Linked DNA regions of Homo sapiens. The protein of the gene in region 3 purifies or fractionates together with the protein of the main gene of each other region. This does not show direct contact. Each region holds a gene or a part of one and is shown on either strand. Other genes may lie near its edges.

Region 1 (7,986 bases), on a different chromosome or scaffold from region 3:
ATTGCAGCAAGTGCTGTGATTAACACTCAATGGACAAACTTGGGTCCCATGCCTACCACGAATCAATCACTGTGGCCAGGCAAATGGGATGCTCTGATTGGCCAGACCTACATCCTGTGTCCTAGGGTTGGGGGTTAAGGTTTGGAAAGTGAGGATCAAGTAAGGGTGTCGCGAGGCTTACCGCCCTTGAAACGACATGGACTGAGTGTAGCGGGTGGGATTCTTCCCTGGAGGAAAACGGAGATGCTGTTGGCAGAGGGGAGATGGCTGCTAGGAAGGTGAGAACAAAAGACATCGTCTCGGTGCACAGGAAATGCGAGCTTTTCCCTGTAGATTAACGAATGAGCACCTGGCAGTTGGTATTGCCAGAAGCAGGAGGTTCCCAGCCAGTTAGAGGCAGAAAATCTCAGTGAAGCCGTGTCTCAGGCTTCATTCAAGTCCCAGCTCTGCCGCCTCAGTCAGTGTGACCTGAGTTGGGGCATCACTGCCTCCTTGGCCTCAGTTTCTCTACCTGTAAAATGAGGGCGTCTGGAGTGGTGGCTGCCTGGGTTTTTTCCCCAGTCACTCATTCAATCATTCATATATTCATTTTTCCCCTTTCAATCAATATGTGTTGAAGGGCACTGGAGTTAGCCTAAACTGGATTTGGATTTCAGTTGTGATGTTTACTCGCTGTATCAGGCTTGACTGATGCACCTTCTCAGGTGTGCTCAGCTGCGTCCTTCCCAGCCAGCCAGCAGCTCTGGACAAGATCAAGCCTCCTCTTGCTTCCGCCTGCAGGCGGCTTGGGTCAGTTGCTGCATCTACTTAGCCACCTAGGCCTGCATCTCCCGCTGTCATTCAAGCAGACCTGACCTGCTTCAAGGGAGGGAGCCCTGGACCCTCCTCTTCTAGGCTCAGGTGAAGCCCTGTGTATGGAATTGGCTTCCCTTGGGGCTGTCTGGAGGCACAGATAACACAGTTGGGCCCAACAGTGACTAATCGTGGACAGAGGATGGGAGGCGCCAGCCGATGAAGTCCTCGCGCTTCCTTCATTCCTTCCATGGTCTGTTTCACGTGGCTTCTGTAGCCAGCCTAGTAAGGCATGTCTTATATTTGCTCTCCCTCCTCCCTTGCCTTGAAGTCCCCTTCCCTTCACCCTTACTGAGCTGGAATTTTATCCCTAATAAAGCATTAGTACATAAAATTTTCCTTGGGCTCTGTTTTCCAGGGAGCCAGGCTGAAATACTAGCTGTGTGACCTTGGGCAACTTACTTAACCTCTCTGAGCTTCAGATCCTTCATCTGTAAAAGGTAGATAATAATAGAGCATCTCAGCGGGGCACAGTGGCTCATACTTGTAACCCTAGCACTTTGGGAGATTGATGTGGGTGAATCGCTTGAACAAGGAGTTCAAAACCAGCCTGGGCAACATGGCAAAATCCCATCTCTACAAAAACACAAAAATTAGCCAAGCATGGTAGCGCATGCCTGTAGTCCCAGCTGCTCGGGAGCCTGAGGCGGGAGGATGGCTTGAGCCCAGGAGGGCGAGGCTGTGTAGTGAGCCAAGATTGTGCTACTGCACTCCAGCCTGGACGACAGAGCGGGACTGTCTCGAAAAAAATTAAGTAATAATAATAATAGAGCACGTCTTATAGGTTGTTGTGGAGTTTAATGAGATAGCACAGGCAAAATATTTGGCTGAATAAATGATAGCCTTCATTAGTATCATTACCGTGAACCAAACGCTGGATTCCAGCATGTGAAAACATTTATGCAACATTGAACTTCATGAATATTTATTGGGTGACAACTCTGTTTCAGGTACTATGCTAGTCTCTTCCCACAAGGACCTCACAGCCTAGAAAGTGAGTGAAAAGTAATTGGGCAATTACACTACAGTGTGATCAGAACTTTAATGAGTGCGGGCACCAGCCCCAGATTCTGCAACATCTAATCAGTTTTGGTGGTTGGGGATGGCTTCTTAGAGGAACTGATGTAGAAGCTAAGATCTGAGGGACATTTAGTTGTTAACTAGATGATGGGGAGGCAGAGGGCAAAGACTTCCTGGTGGGGGTAATGGCATGGGCATAGGACTAGTGTTGAGGGAAAACATTTCAAAGAACATACCGGCTCTCACACTCAACATGCAGATAAATTTTAGGAAAAACAAAATGGATAAATATGCACCAACGAAAATGCATGAACATGGTCTTTGCAAGGGGTGTGTGGGGTGTAGAGCTATACTGTCCAATATGGTAGCCAGGGCCACGTGTGGATTTTAAAATTTATACTAATTAAAATTAAATAAAATGTAAAACTTAGTTCCTCAGTCTCCCTGACCTCATTTTAAGTGCTCAATAGTCATCTGTGGCTAATGTTGGACAGTGCAGATATAGAACATCTCCATCGTTGCAGAAAGTTCTATTGGACAGAGCTGACACAGGCTAATCAGGACCTTCTGGAGGAGGGGACAAAAGACTGCGAAGAAAGGGTTCTGGGAAAATCCCTGGGAAGCACTGTGCTCTATTCTTAGAAAAAGAAAAGCCAGGGCTGGGAGTGGTGAGGTTGGGGGAGGGAGGGGTGTTGCCTCCGGAAACTGTACTACCTGACACCTCTTTGGTCAGGGTCTACCTCTGGGTATGTGCGAGCTGGCATCTCTCACCTAGGCGGGAAGACACAGGAATGCAGGGGGAACCAGCTAAGGTGGGGGCTGACCAGGAAGTCCTGCCCCTTCTGGGTCCAGGTTCAGGAGGACTCTGGGAGTTGTAGTTCAGCACCTCTGGAATCCCCTTAAAGCTTGACAGGGATAGAAGAGCTGACACCCGGTCTGGGCTGGGCATCTCTTGGGGCAGAGAGTAGGGTTGATGGTCAGGGCTGGGGACGTGTCTGGGTTTGAGTCTCCATGGGGGGTGGCAGGAGGAGGACTATCTTGTCCCCTCCCATCCTTATGTTCTGGAATGGAGAGGCGATGCCAAGGTGGAAGCCTGCATTGGCTGGGGAGCTGAGAAACATGGAACATTCCATTGAACAGAACCCCCAGCCTACGCATTCTGGTTCATGGAGATTTGCCCAGGAGAGACAGGAAGTTCCCATAAGGTTAGGGAGGAGGGGCAGCAGATGGCATGTCATCAGCTGTTGGTCATTCATGCACTCAGCATACATTCTTTGAGCACCTATTGTGTGCCAAGCCCTGTTCTAGGCACTGGGAATCGGAGGTGAAAGACAGACAGAAGTCCCTTCCTCCAGGAGGTCTAGAGAGAAGAGCAGACAATCAACGATTTTCCTTTGCTGGTATAACATACACGTCATGTAAAGGCCTGACTTACGTGGATTTTGAAGGATTTTAAGTTTCAACCCAGCCGTTCCTGGTCTCCTACTCACAGACTTCTCTCTGGAAGTGGTAGTTGTCTGTAAAAGCAACTGGGTTTGATCCTTTTGATGACTGTACTCAAGATACCCAGATGATAAGGAGAATGTCTTGAGACATGAGACCTCATGGGACCTCTGCCCCCCAATTCCTGGGTTCCAGCACTGTACACAAGTCAGTTGGGGGTTCTCGGGCTGCTGTTTGGTAAACAGGGTTTACCCTGCCTGGGTCTGATGGTGATGATCAGACCTTCAAAAGGGTTGCAGTGCAAACGGTGTGGAGAACAGGAGCTACCCTTGTTTCTTACACACACCCAACAATTTAAGAGCAAAATGAGGCAAGAAGTCTCCCCACCAATCCTCCTGAAGCCACACAATGTGATGTCTTTTTCTTTTTTTTTTTTTTGAGATGGAGTCTTGCTCTGTCGTCCAGGCTGGAGTGCAGTGGCGCGCTCTTGGCTCACTGCAATCTCCACCTCCCGGGTTCAAGCCATTCTCCTGCCTTAGCCTCCCGAGTAGCTGGGATCACAGGCATCCGCCACCACGCCCAGCTAATTTTTGTAATTTTTAGTAGTGACGAGGTTTCACCACGTTGGCCAGGCTGGTCTCAAACTCATGACCTCAGGTGATCCACCCGCCTCGGCCTCCCAAAATGCTGGGATTACAAGCCACCGTGCGCAGCCTGTGATGTCCTTTTCTTTCTCTTTTTTTATTGAGGTCTATCTTGCTTATAATAAAGGCACATTGATTTTAGGTCCTCCAGTTATTCATGCTCTGTACATTTCCCATAGGAGCACATGTCACAGATTCAATTTGATATACTCGTGAAATTATTTGTTTGAATATCTGTAAGCTGCACAACAGCCTGGATTTTGCCAGCTGCCCACCACTGGGTTCTCCAGCACCCAGCATGCAATAGGTGCTTAATAAAGATCTGCTGAATGAAATGAGTAACGGATAACAGAACAGGTATTTTCTCTTTCAGAGGCGACTTCCTACGATTCTCTCAACTTGTCCACAAGTTCCTGTACCCATTACCCCACAACTCACACCCACAACATAATGGCAGGAGGATGCGCACACAGTAGGCGCTCCAGCGAACTCTCAGGTGCAGTGCCCTTGCTTGGCGCGAGGAGGCGCCAGCACCGCGCACAGACCTTGCCCGCCCCCGGGCCGGCACCAGCAGCCCAGGCAAGTCAGTGGGCCCACATTTATGGAGCGCCTCCTGAAATCCTGGGTTGCATTAGGCTCTCGGGGTCGCCGGCTGGGCAGCGGGTCGGTGCCGGTGGCGGGGGATCCTGGCTGGTGACTGGGGAACATCCAGGGAACGCGGGAGGGTACCCGGAGCAAAGTTCCCAATTGGACAGAGCGGGGTCGGGCCTCGAGGGGCGGGAGCGCTTCCGGCAGGGGTGTCCAAGCGAGTCGTGACCTCTGACCCGCCGGAGAGGTCCCAGGCCCAGGCGCCACTGCGGACTCGGGTCCTGCCTGCTCTGCTCCCCTCCGCGCAGGCGCGGCCGGCGGCAGTTCCCATGGTGACGGGGGCGCGTCCCCGCTCGAGGCCCCGCCCCCAGCAGGCTAGGCTGCGCGGGGCTGCGGGCTCCCAGGGCAGGTGCCGCGGGCTGCGGGCAGGTGGCGGCGCGGCGCGGGCTGGCGGTGGCTCCACGGTAGGTTGCGCAGCGGCTGCGGGCAGTGGGGGCCGGCTGGCCGCCTCCTGTCCCCGGCCGACGAGGTAGCTGGGGGTGACGGCGGCTGGCGAGGGCCGCCAAGTTTCTGCCCGGCCGAGGCCCCGGGAGAAAAGTTGGCAAAGTTGGCCGGGGAAGAGGCGGGGAGCCGGAGGATTTCCCCAGACTCCGGGTCTGCAGGGAGGGAGGATCCCGGTTTGGGAGCCGGGGAATCCGTCTCCCGAGACTTGAGAGTGGATCCCGCGGGAAGATCCCGCACAGGGCAACCAATGGATCACGTGCCACCTGGTTGGCGACTTGGGAGTCGATCCCTGGAGGGGATCGGGCGCTGGAGGCCTGGGGTCCCACTGGATCCCCAGTCAGGGGTGACGGCGAAGGGTGATTCGAGACTGGGAGCGAGAGGATCAATCTCCTCCCATGCCAGCCTGAGCCTTGGGAATGGATTCAGAGAGATCCCGTGGCTAGGAGCTGAGGGATCGCTGGAGATCTGGGTTACTCAGCCTGGAGCTGCTAGGGTCTGGACATTTGTGCGGGTTGGAGGCCCCGGAGGTGGAAGTGGGAAGCAAGGGCGGCGAGCGAGACGGAACCCTGGTCGAGGGGAGCCCGGAGGACAGCGCGGTGGTTCGGGGGGCGTGAGAGGGGCGGCGCGCGGGGCCCCTCGGACGCGGAGGCTCCGGACACGTCCTCTCGGCCTGGCCTGCGCCCCCCCTCCGCTCGTCTTCCCAGGGCGGAGGCGCCCTGATGGGATTAAGCCTCAGTCCCCCTGTTACCAGGCAGGCCCGCGTGGTCCCCGCCCCGATGGCGGCGCGGCCCACCCGGGCTCACGGGTGGGGCCCTCGGGATGGGAAGCGGCTCGTTGACCCCCACCCGAGCCTGACCTTTTCACACCCTGCTGGCACAAACTCGCCTGGGAGTGGGGACGCCGCGCCTTAAAACCCTGCTGTTTGTCCAGTCCCGGAGCAGGCGTGTGACCTCCACCGCGCGACGCCTAGGTGGCTAGGGCTTCCTGCCTGCCGGGACTGAACTTTCTCTAGCCAGGAGCAGCCATTATCTTTTGGAAGGGAAAGGACTGTACCTGTTGCACAAAGAAAAACACTTTCTTTGCACCTTTTTTGTGACCTTGGGCAAAACACTTAACCTATCTGAATCCAGATGGGGACCCTCTGGGCAAAATGGGCTTGGCCTAGGATGGATCGGAATGAAGGGTATGAAACAGGTAGGGGCTCTATAAGTATCAGTGCCTCCCTCAGTCTATGGCCTCTCCTTTCCCGTGCCCCATCCCCTGTGCTTGCCTTACAGTATCTAAAGATTCCAGAAACCCTACTTGCTATCTTTTGAAACCGCAGGATTAGAGAGCTATTTAGCTTAACCTTTCTTCCAAATGGGTTAATTGCCCCTCTGATCCCCCCTTGCAGAGAGAAGCTCTGAGGTTTGGCTAATGAGTAACCAAGACATTTGGACAAAGCTTCTCCCTTGGTCTGGCTTTCCCTCTGCTAATCCATCAAGGTTCCTGGACAAACGTGTGCACCCCCAGACTCTGGCGCCTCCTTCCTTCCTGTTGCAGCCAGGGACAGTTCCCGAGGAATTTGTACAGACACAAGCCCAGATCTTGGTGGTTCTGGCAGGGGGATCCTTTTTAAAGGATTTGCATGCTTGACAAGGGTGCAATTACCCAAGAGAAGTGCAGAGTTTCAATGCAGTGTCTGGACATACATTTCAGCTGGGCACATGAACTGGCTGGCTCCATCAACCAGCGTGTATTGAGCACCTATGTCAGGAGCACTGTAGAAATGGTGTGGCCTAGGGCAACTCAGGATTTGTCCTCTTGGAGTTACTTTCCAGCTATGGAGCAGTCGGCTTGCCCTGCAGTCTAGTACTGATTCTTGATGTTGGGGATACAGTTCTCACCCTAGGTTCAGAGGCTGGAAGCTGCCCCTACCCCCACTGGAGGTCCTAGGGGCTGCTTTTTTTCGTTTGTTTTGTTTTGTTTTGTTTTATTTTGTTTTTTGAGATGGAGTCTCGCTCTGCAGCCCAGGCTAGAGTGCAATGGCGCGATCTCGGCTCACTGCGACCTCTGCCTCCCGGGTTCAAGCAATTCTCCGGCCTCAGCCTCCAGAGTGGCTGGGATTACAGATGCCCGCCACTCTGCCCGGCTAATTTTTGTATTTTTAGTAGAGATAGGGTTTCACCATGTTGGCCAGGCTGATCCCAAACTCCTAACCTTAGGTGATCCTCCTGCCTCCGCCTCCCAAAGTGCTAGGATTACAGGCATGAGCCACTGCGCCTGGCCGGGGCTGTTTTTTATTGAAGGCTGACCTTGGCAGGAGAATGAAGGAGCCAGTTGTCTGGCTCTGAGCATTTCTCCTCACCAGGCTACATCTCTGACCAACTCAGAAACAGAGCCTCACAGGGATATTTTATATGTGCATTCATTCATTTATTTATCATTTGTTCCTTCAACAAATATTTCAAGACACTGTGTCAAAGATGAGGCTAGCAGCCACATCCTTAAGGGGATACTTTATGCCCTGAAAGTCTTTGTGAACATATGCATTTGTCTGGAAGGGGAGAACTATGATCATAGGAGGAGGGGCTGATGCCTTTGGCTATAAGGAGGGATGCGGGTCAGAGAGTTTAGTTTTCTCGACAGCCAGTGGGAAGAGGTTGGTGTTATGGGCTGCAGAAATGGAATAGCTTGTGCAGAAGCCTGGAGGTAGGTGAGTGCCTAGGGTGTTGACTGGGGCCAGGCCAGCCATGCTTAGTGGTTTGGACTTTATTCCTGGAGCGTGGGGCGCTGTGGATCACAGTGGAAGGGTCTCTGCAGGTGAGGGGCAGGGTCAGATGTGTGTTTTGGGAAGCTTGCCCTGGCTGGTGTGGGGAGGCTGGATGATCGGAGGGTCATGCCAGGAGGCTGGGGGCCAGTAAGCAGGCTGCTAGAAAAATCCAGGTGAGAGGCC
Region 2 (7,036 bases), about 32 Mb from region 3:
CCAGGCATCACATTCAGTTACAACAATATCCAGAGGGGGGAAAAAAAGACTACTTCATCCCACATGCCTTTTTTTTTTTTTTTTTTTAGCAAGAAAAACTTTTTTCAGGAGCCCCCAAAGAACTCATACTTTTTAGCCACAATGACATTGTCACAGGCATAAATTAAAAATTTGGTAAGAAGGAAATGACTATGATCAGATTAATAGTAGCATTAACATGCCAGAAGTTTTCTGAAATGCACGGTGATATTTTTGGTTGTCATGGAGACTGGGGTCCACCACCAGCATTTAATAGATGACAGCTAAAACTATCCAATATGCTGGAAAATATTTGTCTATTTCACACAAAGAAGTGTGGTCTAAAATGTCAACAGAGAGAATATGGGTGAATAAAACTAAGAATAATAAAAGAGCAATGGCCAAACAGTAGACAAGTATCAGTGTCTTCCACAGTGGTGAAAGACACTATTCTTAGCTGTAACTAGAATATAATCTAGGGTAGTGACAGACAAGTAAAGAAAAAATTTAAAAGCATCAACTTTCATGAGGATAAAGAAATAACAGGATTAGGAATGGAGAAAGAATATTAACAGTTACTAAATACCTGTTATGCTAGGTGTTCTCATAAATTCCTTCATTTAATAAACACAGAGTTAGTATTTTAGTCTTCCCAAGTGCTGACATAGCTAAATTATACATATTTAGGTAACCCCAGAGAGTCAATAAAAATTTATTTATATCAGAAAATACTACAATTTTTAACTGAGAAGGAAAGCTTGGCATATGCTTACACTATAATCAGTACAGTTTAAAACAGCCATGTCACAAACCTTTGAAGTCTTCTTCTGCATTAGGTACAAAAAAAGTATTAAAAACTGACTCAGATTAAGAGACAACAACTGTAAAATATGTGTTTTACATATAAAAATGTGTATAGTTTTAAGATATCACCACTTAAGAGTCACACTTCCAACAAACTACTTAAAAATCACTGATCATGTCATTTGTTCAACACAGCTACCTCCAAATTCACCCAGTATGGAGCTACTCATTGCAGCACTAGCATATCACAGTGTTAGTACTTAAGATTTTCTTCTATATTGTCTTCTACTGATACCAAATACTAATTCAGAACAGAAATCTAGGAGTTATATCTACCACAGGCCACACTAATTGTTAAGAGCCATATACGAAGTCTATTTCTAAGGAAAAAAGACATGACCATGAAGAAACCCACAGAGGTTACTCACAAAATTAATCACTCAGCATTGGTATTAGTAGGATCAAGAAAAAAAACTTAAAAACCAACTATGGATAGTAACAAATAAAAACCTAGGAATTTTGGGATTAACAGTACAACATCATATGTAATCTGAATATCATTATGAAAACTGAATTAACTTATTTCCTAGAGAAACACAGAATAAAACTACCAGGGGTATATAACTGAAAGTGTGAACATGTCAGATACAGAAATCAAGTAAAATACTCACTGCCAAAGCCTTGGACAGTTTGGCTCTAAATTCATTCAGGATGATTGCCACAATGTCCTTAAGTGGTACGTAAGCAAAGCCATCTTCCAAATAGACTTTCCTTCCTCGAAACAAATCCAGAGCATCAGCAAAAGGGATCTGAATTAAGAGTAAAACAGGCAAAATAAGTCAGCACCTGTCATTAAGAAATCCTAAGTCTTCATATGTATAAAGTATAAACAAAGAAATTCATTAGTCCTAGCAGAGCCAAAAGAATATCAAAATGATTAATTTATCCTCCTTAAAACTCAACAGCATTAGCAAACAGTGGCAGTACAAAAATATGTTCGTTTCAGAGTTGATGTTTTGAAAAATAGTAACACTAAAAGGCCAAGTTGGAATGCTTACTTTTATTCCTTAACCTCTGAATTTACAAAACATAATCCCCAGGATTTCAAACTCTTAACTCAAGACTTCTACACATGTTGCATTCACCTCACATATCCCACTTTGTATTCTGCATCAGAGAGAATCCTAATTTGTAAACAACATATTCAGAGCTGAAAATTACTTGTAAGTAAATTCCAATTTCTTCATGTATGTTTCCATTCTCACTCCAGAGAAATATACTGAAAAAGCTAATCTCAGTACTAAGAAATGGAAATAATAAGCATTCAGTTTTGCTATTAAAAGAAGTATTTGCCCCAAGAATTTATTTTTAAAAATCTTAGATTTTTAAACCCTATGAACAATCTTAAAATTCTAAGAGATGAGCGAAGTATGATATTAGTAAACTGTAAAAATCATTCTTACTCTCCAATAGAATTTTTCTTTTTTAAAAAACGAGGTTAAAAAATTAGGTGAAAAATGATTCCCAAATTGCCTATTCATTCAAGTTTTAAGGAAGAATTAAATATAAATGCATACAATTTTCTGTATATCCAACGACATCTCACACTATAAACAGATCATGTGCTTTTTAACAACTTTCAATTAATTTACCTATTTCTACAACTGCAACACAGTCCCTGCCCTCATGGGCACACACGGAAAGTCAAACAGACCTACAGGGTAAATTGTGTGATACTGCACCAAATAGGTAGCTTACATAGGACATATCAGATGAGCAGGTAAGAGGGTTTACTGCAATAATATAGGGAAGAAACATGAGTTCTAGTCCAAGCTCTGATACTGACTAGACTTATTTGGTGAATTTAATGAATGCCTCTAAATCTCAGCAGCCAGATCTGTAAAGCTGAGAGAGGGGAGGAAGACACAGGCTAACTGACCCTTAGGGATTCTTTAGCCATAGTATTTCATGATTCTAGCTTATTAAGGTGGTCACAGTGGAAACAAAAATGCCCAAGTAGAAGCAAAAGATGATGTGAAGGCAGAGTAACTGGAAATGTGTGGTGTAAGAGAAATAAATATTGATCACCACACTCTAGGCTTGAAAGGCTGACTGAATGATGGCCCAACAGTCGAAACGAAGAAGCTGGAATGGGGCAGGACTTTAAACTACTGGCACTCACTCATAATAATTAGCACATTCTTTTCAAAGGAAATTGTGGGGTTGCAGTTATCAAATTGTAAAATGAATTTAAACTCTTCCCTCTTCCCCTTCTGGAAGGGTTCATGTGACGTAGTTATCTGAACTGAGTGGGGAGGGGAAACTGAGGTGGCCAAGCACAGGATGATGGAATCTGAGTAGGTTAAGGAGGGCATTCCCATAGGAAAAAACGTAGGCTTACAATGTCAGAGCCCAGTGGAATCACAGAGAGACCATGAGGCAAGACACCACGATGTCAGAGGTCAAGAGAAGCGAAAGGGGGCTTCCACGCAAGGCAGCAATCCAAACAGAGTGTTGGGCCAAATGGGTGATGAGGGTTTCCTGGCAGGGGATAGCCCAGTGCAGGGTGTAAGAACCCAAACAATGCAAGGAGGGTATTCCATTAGGAAAACAGCCTGTAATGGGAGGTCAGAGCCCAAGCAGGGTTGGGAATGCGTCCGTGGAAGGAGACAGCCCAGGAGAGAACATTGGCACACCATTAGTGCAATGAGGACAGTATCTGTGCAGGAGACAGAGTAGCTGTGATGATGAGAGGCTATAAAAATGGATTAATTAAATATGTATATAAAGCTCAATGCGACATATTTAACAAAACCTAGGAAGTATTTTACATGTTTACATACCTTATAAATGGACTCGAACCCCAACTTAAGTCCACTTAAACTTGGTGATGAGGCAACAATCTCCTGTTCTCGAAGAGTCTTCTCTTCATCACTTATCTAAAAAAACATATTTTAAGCTGTTACAAAAATTTGAAGTCCTCATTCAGTTTCAATAAAATGATTTCCTGTTTTAATGAATACTGTTTACTTTTATTAAAAATTTTAAAACCTTGATATCTCAAATCATTTCTAACATGATATCTGAATCACTATCATTAGTGAAGGCAAAATACAGAAAAAAACCTAAATTGAATATTCTTTCAAATTTCAACCCTGCCAATTTCTGAAGGTATACATCAAAAGAACAGTAGCAGACAAAGAGAAAATATTTTAATGAGAAAAAGGAAAAAACTTATCATAAAAACTCAGGTTAATATAGACTAAAAATGAGCATTATCCTAATTTGAGTTATGTTAATATATTAAAATATCCTAATTGAGGTTAGAGTGGTTTGACTATTTCTCAATTTTCTAGCCACATAAGACAATTCCAAACTTAAAACACTAGTTTTTCTAGGAACAACTATAAATTTATTATCTCAGACTGATTATGGCTTTATAAAAAATTGATAGATCTGATTAGTACAAGCGTTAAACTTCTATACCAAAACATATATATATTTTTGTAAATGAAGATGAAATATAAGTGACAAACTGAGGGAAATATTTACATCATCTGATGTGTGAGTTAGCCTCAGTAAGCCCCTAGTTGGCAGTATGTAAGCTTTCATAACCCAAAAGTAGTAAAACATGAACAGCCAATAGTTATATAAGTAAAAATAATAAATGCTAAATTAAAATAATAATGTGTACTATTTTCCATCTATCAAAATGGTAAAAGTTAAAAAGATTTAGAATACACAGTGTTAGGACAATCTTTGTGTACCATACTTTGATAATACATATCAAATAGCCTTTAAAAATGCAGATTGTAACTATTTTATTTTCAGATTAATCACAAGTAAATAACAGGACAAGCACACAAATAAAAACGTTTCTTTATTACAGTGTTATTTATAATAATAAAGAAAAAAACTAAATGTCCAACATGTATCTAGTTAAACAAACTGCAGTAGAACTTGCTGTTTCAGTAAAACAGGCTATATTATTTGGGTCAACCTCCTAGAGAAAACAAAACAAAACAAAACACTGATAAAATTTTTAAAACATCTTTACAGCACAGAAAGTTAATATACAAAGTCAGGCCCACACAAAGTGGGATATCTGACGAGAGACCTTCCTGCTCAAATGATGTAGGATATCAGGGAATCCCAAGCCTTGAACTTGTTTTAAGGCGGTACCTGATTCAAATGCCCAGGCACCTCGCAAAAGCAAACTCAAATCCTCTCTGGAGGAACCTTCACATTACACCTCAAAGTATTCCTACAAATAAATTTCCAAATACAATGTCAAGCACGTTGTATTTTATAACAAGGTATAGAAAAAAACTATACTTCACGAACAAAAACAACAGGGAAGAATTCACAAAGTTTACAGATAATAACTATGCTACCATGTGTACAGAAATAAAAGACAAGCACAATCTGTATGAAGTGGAAACTATAAAAAGTGATTTTTTTTTTAAAAGCAAAAGGCTGGGCACGGTGGCTCACGTCTATAATCCCAGCACTTTTGGAGGCCAAGGCGGGAGGATCACTTGAATCCAGGAGTTTGAGACCAGCCTGGGCAACACGGTGAGACCCCATCTCTACAAAAAAAAAAATTAAAACATTAGCCAGGTATGGTGGTATACACTTGTTATCTCAGCTACTTGGGAGGCTAAGGTGGGAGGATTGCTTGAGCCCAGGAGTTAGAGGCTGCAGTAAGCCATGATCACATTACTGCACTCCAGTCTGGGTGACACAGCAAACCATTATCAAAAAAAAAAAAAAGAAGAAGAAGAAGAAAAAGCTTTCTGATGTGCTGTTTTACATCACTGAATGGAACCTGGGTTTTCATTAAAAAGGTTCCAAACACACAGTTTGTAGAATCTAAGAAATGACATTTCTGAGCCCGTTGAGCCCTTACAGGAACATACAAACATCCAGCCCTAAGACCTAAAATCAAGCAATGTGCACAAAACCTTTGTGATGTGTTGTTTTATATCACTAAATGAAACCTGTGTTTTATTAAACAGGTTCCAAACACACATTTAGATGAATGTAAGAAATGACATTTCAGAGATGATTAGGCCTATATAAGGAAAAAGAGGAAAAAGAAAAAAAAATTTCTAGAAATAGACAAAAAAAATTTAGGCACAGAAATTTAAAACTCAATGGAGTCAGGAAGAAACCCCTGAAATTCCTGTAGCTGTGAACAATTACTTGAGGATGAACCAGAACCTTATCAGCCTTCACATGGATCTACAACCCATTTTCAACTTATCTAGTGATTCTGAGATCTCAGATCCCAGATTTAAATTAAAATTAGCCTGGACCAGCAATGACCCCAGGCCAATGAAAAAAAAAAAACAAATGAAAACCCTTCCAGAAAGATATAATCCTCCTAAGCTTCAATATAGTCCACACATAACTTTCGAAACACAATCTCCAGCATACAACAGTAACAAAGCACACCAGGAAATGAGACTCCATGAATAAAAACAATATAGGTAAGAACAAAAAAGTATCAAGATTGAAAAAGAAGAACTAAAACTCTATTTGCAGATTATATGATTTAGTATACTTAGAAAATCCAGAAGTATCCACGACAAATTATTAAAACTATTGGCCTAATTGAGTCAGGTTTCTGGATTCAAATATAGAAAAACCGGCAGGGTGCGGTGACTCACACCTGTAATCCCAGCACTTCAGGAGGCTGAGGCGGGTGGATCATGAGGTCAGGAGTTTGAGACCAGCCTGGCCAACATGGTGAAACCCCATCTCTACTAAAGATACCAAAAAAAAAAAAAAAAATTAGCTGGGCATGGTGGTGCACGCCTGTAATCCCAGCTACTCAGGAGGGTGGGGAAGAAGAATTGCTTGAACCTGGAAGGTGGAGGTTGCGGTGAGCCAGATTGTGCCACTGCACTCCAGCCTGGGCGACAAGGCGAGACTCGGTCTCAAAAAATAAAAAATATAGAAAAACTAATTGTATTTCTATATGCCAGCAACAAAATTCAGTAAGGGAATTTTTTAAGCTACAATTTACAACAGAATTAAAACTATCAAGGATCTAGGAATAAATCTAACAAAATATGTGCAAGGCCTTCACCAACAAAAATATAAAATCTTAGAGAAACTGGAGAAAAATTAATTAACAGAGATACCCTAAACATCAACCAGAAAACTTAATATTGTAAATGTTTCAAATCTCTTCAAATTAACCTATAGA
Region 3 (3,047 bases):
GCTGAGGCAGGATTGCTTGAGCCTAGAAGATGAGGCTTCAGTGAGCCATGATCACAACACTGACTGTACTCCAGCCGGGGTGACAGTGAGAACCTGTCTCCAAAAATAAGAATAAAAATTAAAAACCAGTTTAAACAAAGAAACATGGACATTTGTGACTTTTCTCATATGAGGCACTTATACTTTAGCCAGGATCCAAAAACCTGTTCCATTGCATTTATGTTATTATATGGAATTACTCTGTATTAAATGTGTAAACTTTTTTTAAAAAAGGAAACTCAATACTATATGTATTTACCTCCTGCCATGTACAATTTGCACTGCAATTTTTTAGCTTCTGAGACTAGTGAAACATTCATTTTTAAACAAAAGAACTTAATTGTTCTTTTAAAATATTTGACACATAGTGGAAAAGCAAGTCAACATCTATGATACTGATGCGTAAGAAAAAGTATAGTATATCACAATGGATTTGGATGATTGTGCTTCATCTTCGTACATATATCTTCAGGTCATTAAAAAAGCAAGACAATTGCTATCAGATAAACATGTTTATTGTAGATTTTTCATACACATTTTATGTACCTATTATTACAAAAAAGCTTATAATCTGATGGTAGTAGACTGATTGCTTACTTGAAAATATTAACTTCATACATATCAAAATACACCATCCTCAACTATATAATTGGACTGCAAAATGCTTGATATGAAGTATGTAAAAAAATAAGCAGTTTATTATACCTTACAACCTTATAAAGGGTTGCTATCTAGTACAAAGATAACATTTATCTTATAACAAAAATTTGATAGTTTTAAAGGTTAGTATTGTGTAGGGTATTTTCCAAAAGACTAAAGAGATAACTCAGGTAAAAAGTTAGAAATGTATAAAACACCATCAGACAGGTTTTTAAAAAACAACATATTACAAAATTAGACAATCATCCTTAAAAAAAAAAACTTATTGTATCAATTTCTTTTGTTCAAAATGACTGACTTAAGTATTTTTAAATATTTCAGAAACACTTCCTCAAAAATTTTCAAGATGGTAGCTTTCAGATGTTCCCTCAGTCCCAATGTTGCTCAGATAAATAAATCTCGTGAGAACTTACCACCCACCACAAGCTTTCTGGGGCATGCAACAGTGTCTTTTCTTTTCTTTTTTTTTTTTTTTTTTTTACAGGCACAGAAACTCATCAATTTTATTTGGATAACAAAGGGTCTCCAAATTATATTGAAAAATAAATCCAAGTTAATATCACTCTTGTAAAAAAGTTGAGCACACTTTTCACAAACAATTTATGTAAAAGAGAAGAAAATACACATAATTTTACATAATATCTTAAACTCTTTTATTCCCTACCATAGACATTTTGTCTTGTTTTCTTTCAGTTTTCTACAATTTCCAACTTGTACCTGTGTTTAATACTGCTTTAGTGTGCTAAAGACATTAACTGATTGCTTTCCTAAATCTAAGGATTATATAGTTTTAGTATAAATATATATCATATATTTTCGTAAAACTTTGACAAAACCAAATAAGCAAGCCTTGTTTTAAGTCCACGCTCCTGCCACTGTTTACAAAATTTGATTTAATGATCAAAAAACTATTGGTTGTCACTCTTCTGTTACAACAATCTTCCTTGTGAACTGCCACCCAGTTTTTACATAATAATAACAAGCAATAGAAAAACCAAAGAAATTATGTTAATCTTAGCTCTTCCTTTGCAAGTGTCTTTTCTTCTTACACCCAGTGCTTAGAAATAGGCACTCCTCAACCAGTGTTCACTGAATTCAACTGCTGAAATTGTAACAGTTAAATTATCAACACAACTCTTAATAAATAAACATTCCTTTGGGAAATTGTGGGAAATCAAAACACTTTTAAGTTTATACAAGTATTCATAAACATAAAATATTCTAGTTTATCCTAATGCCCTAGCTCTTATGAGTGCTATAGAGGCAATTAAAAAGGGAAAATTTCTTGAGTAGTTCACATGTGGAGAATTTGTTAAAACCGAAAAGCAGTCCAAAATTTTTAAAAGGCATACTAAATATTAGCTATACTCACTATTACATGGTATATAGCAATTTAGTAATTCATAGTACCACATATTTTACTTTAAAAGCAGGTCCCATATTAAGGCCTGCTTTTAAAATTGCCACTAAAAAGAAAATATTTTCAATTTGTATATTTAAACCATTAATTTAGATAACATCTTTTAAAGTCTACAAATTTAACATAGCCAAGAGTTGGTATTTGAGAAAAAGGTTTCAGTACAGGGTGTGAACAATGAAAAATTATAAAGGCATGTAATAAAAATGTTCCATAAAAACAAAGATACCTCAAGCAGGTCCACCTATACCTCTAGTTTAGTTTAGAAACTAATTCAGTATTTTAAGAATCATATAATTTTAAACTTTGCACTAAGCCTAACCTTTTTAAAAAATGGTCAGGGCCAGGTGCAGTGCCTCAAGCCTGTAATCCCAGTGCTTTAGGAGGCTGAGGTGGGAGGACTGCTTGAGTCCAGGAGTTCGAGACTGCAGTGAGCTGTGATTACACCACTGCACTCCAGCCTGGGAGAGCAAGAACCTGCCCATTAAAAAACCAAACAAAAATGGGCAGGTGTGGTGTCTCATACCTGAAATCCCAACACTTTGGGAGGCCAAGACAGGAGGATTGCTTGAGCCCAGGAGTTTGAGGCCAGCCTGGAAGCTACAGCGAGCCCCTGTCTCTATTATGTAAAAAAATAAAAATTTTTTTAAAAAAGAGGTTTTCTTATGTGTACCTGAAGCAAAGTAGTAAGTATATCTTTTCTTCTCCACGTTGTACAAGAGATGACTGTAAACACAAAATTAAAACTCATCTTAGGATCATGGTCCATCCACGAAGCTACTTTAAACTCTGATGATTCCAAGCAAGGAAGCAATATTTGCTTATTCAAAAAGTACTGAATATTCAGAGTAAGCAATATGCTAGATACTGTAACAATTTAAAAATACCAACACACATGTGTATTAAAAAGACACTGGCAGGCCGGGTGCGG

What was found. The genes of interacting proteins can lie anywhere in the genome.
Region 1: the proteins of PM20D2 (region 3) and KIAA1671 purify together in Homo sapiens (affinity purification with mass spectrometry; 2 studies listed by BioGRID and IntAct, with this or other methods). This does not show direct contact.
Region 2: the proteins of PM20D2 (region 3) and PRIM2 purify together in Homo sapiens (affinity purification with mass spectrometry; 2 studies listed by BioGRID and IntAct, with this or other methods). This does not show direct contact.

The regions. Positions count from the first base shown.
Region 1 is NC_000022.11:24,947,762-24,955,747, forward strand, and holds the start of KIAA1671 (uncharacterized protein KIAA1671), read left to right. Parts: upstream 1-4,954; 5' UTR 4,955-5,011; intron 5,012-7,986.
Region 2 is NC_000006.12:57,376,626-57,383,661, reverse strand, and holds part of PRIM2 (DNA primase large subunit), read right to left. Parts: intron 3,762-7,036; coding exon 3,666-3,761; intron 1,632-3,665; coding exon 1,494-1,631; intron 1-1,493. UniProt on the Homo sapiens protein: Regulatory subunit of the DNA primase complex and component of the DNA polymerase alpha complex (also known as the alpha DNA polymerase-primase complex) which play an essential role in the initiation of DNA synthesis.
Region 3 is NC_000006.12:89,163,055-89,166,101, reverse strand, and holds the end of PM20D2 (xaa-Arg dipeptidase), read right to left. Parts: 3' UTR 537-3,047; downstream 1-536. UniProt on the Homo sapiens protein: Catalyzes the peptide bond hydrolysis in dipeptides having basic amino acids lysine, ornithine or arginine at C-terminus. Postulated to function in a metabolite repair mechanism by eliminating alternate dipeptide by-products formed during carnosine synthesis.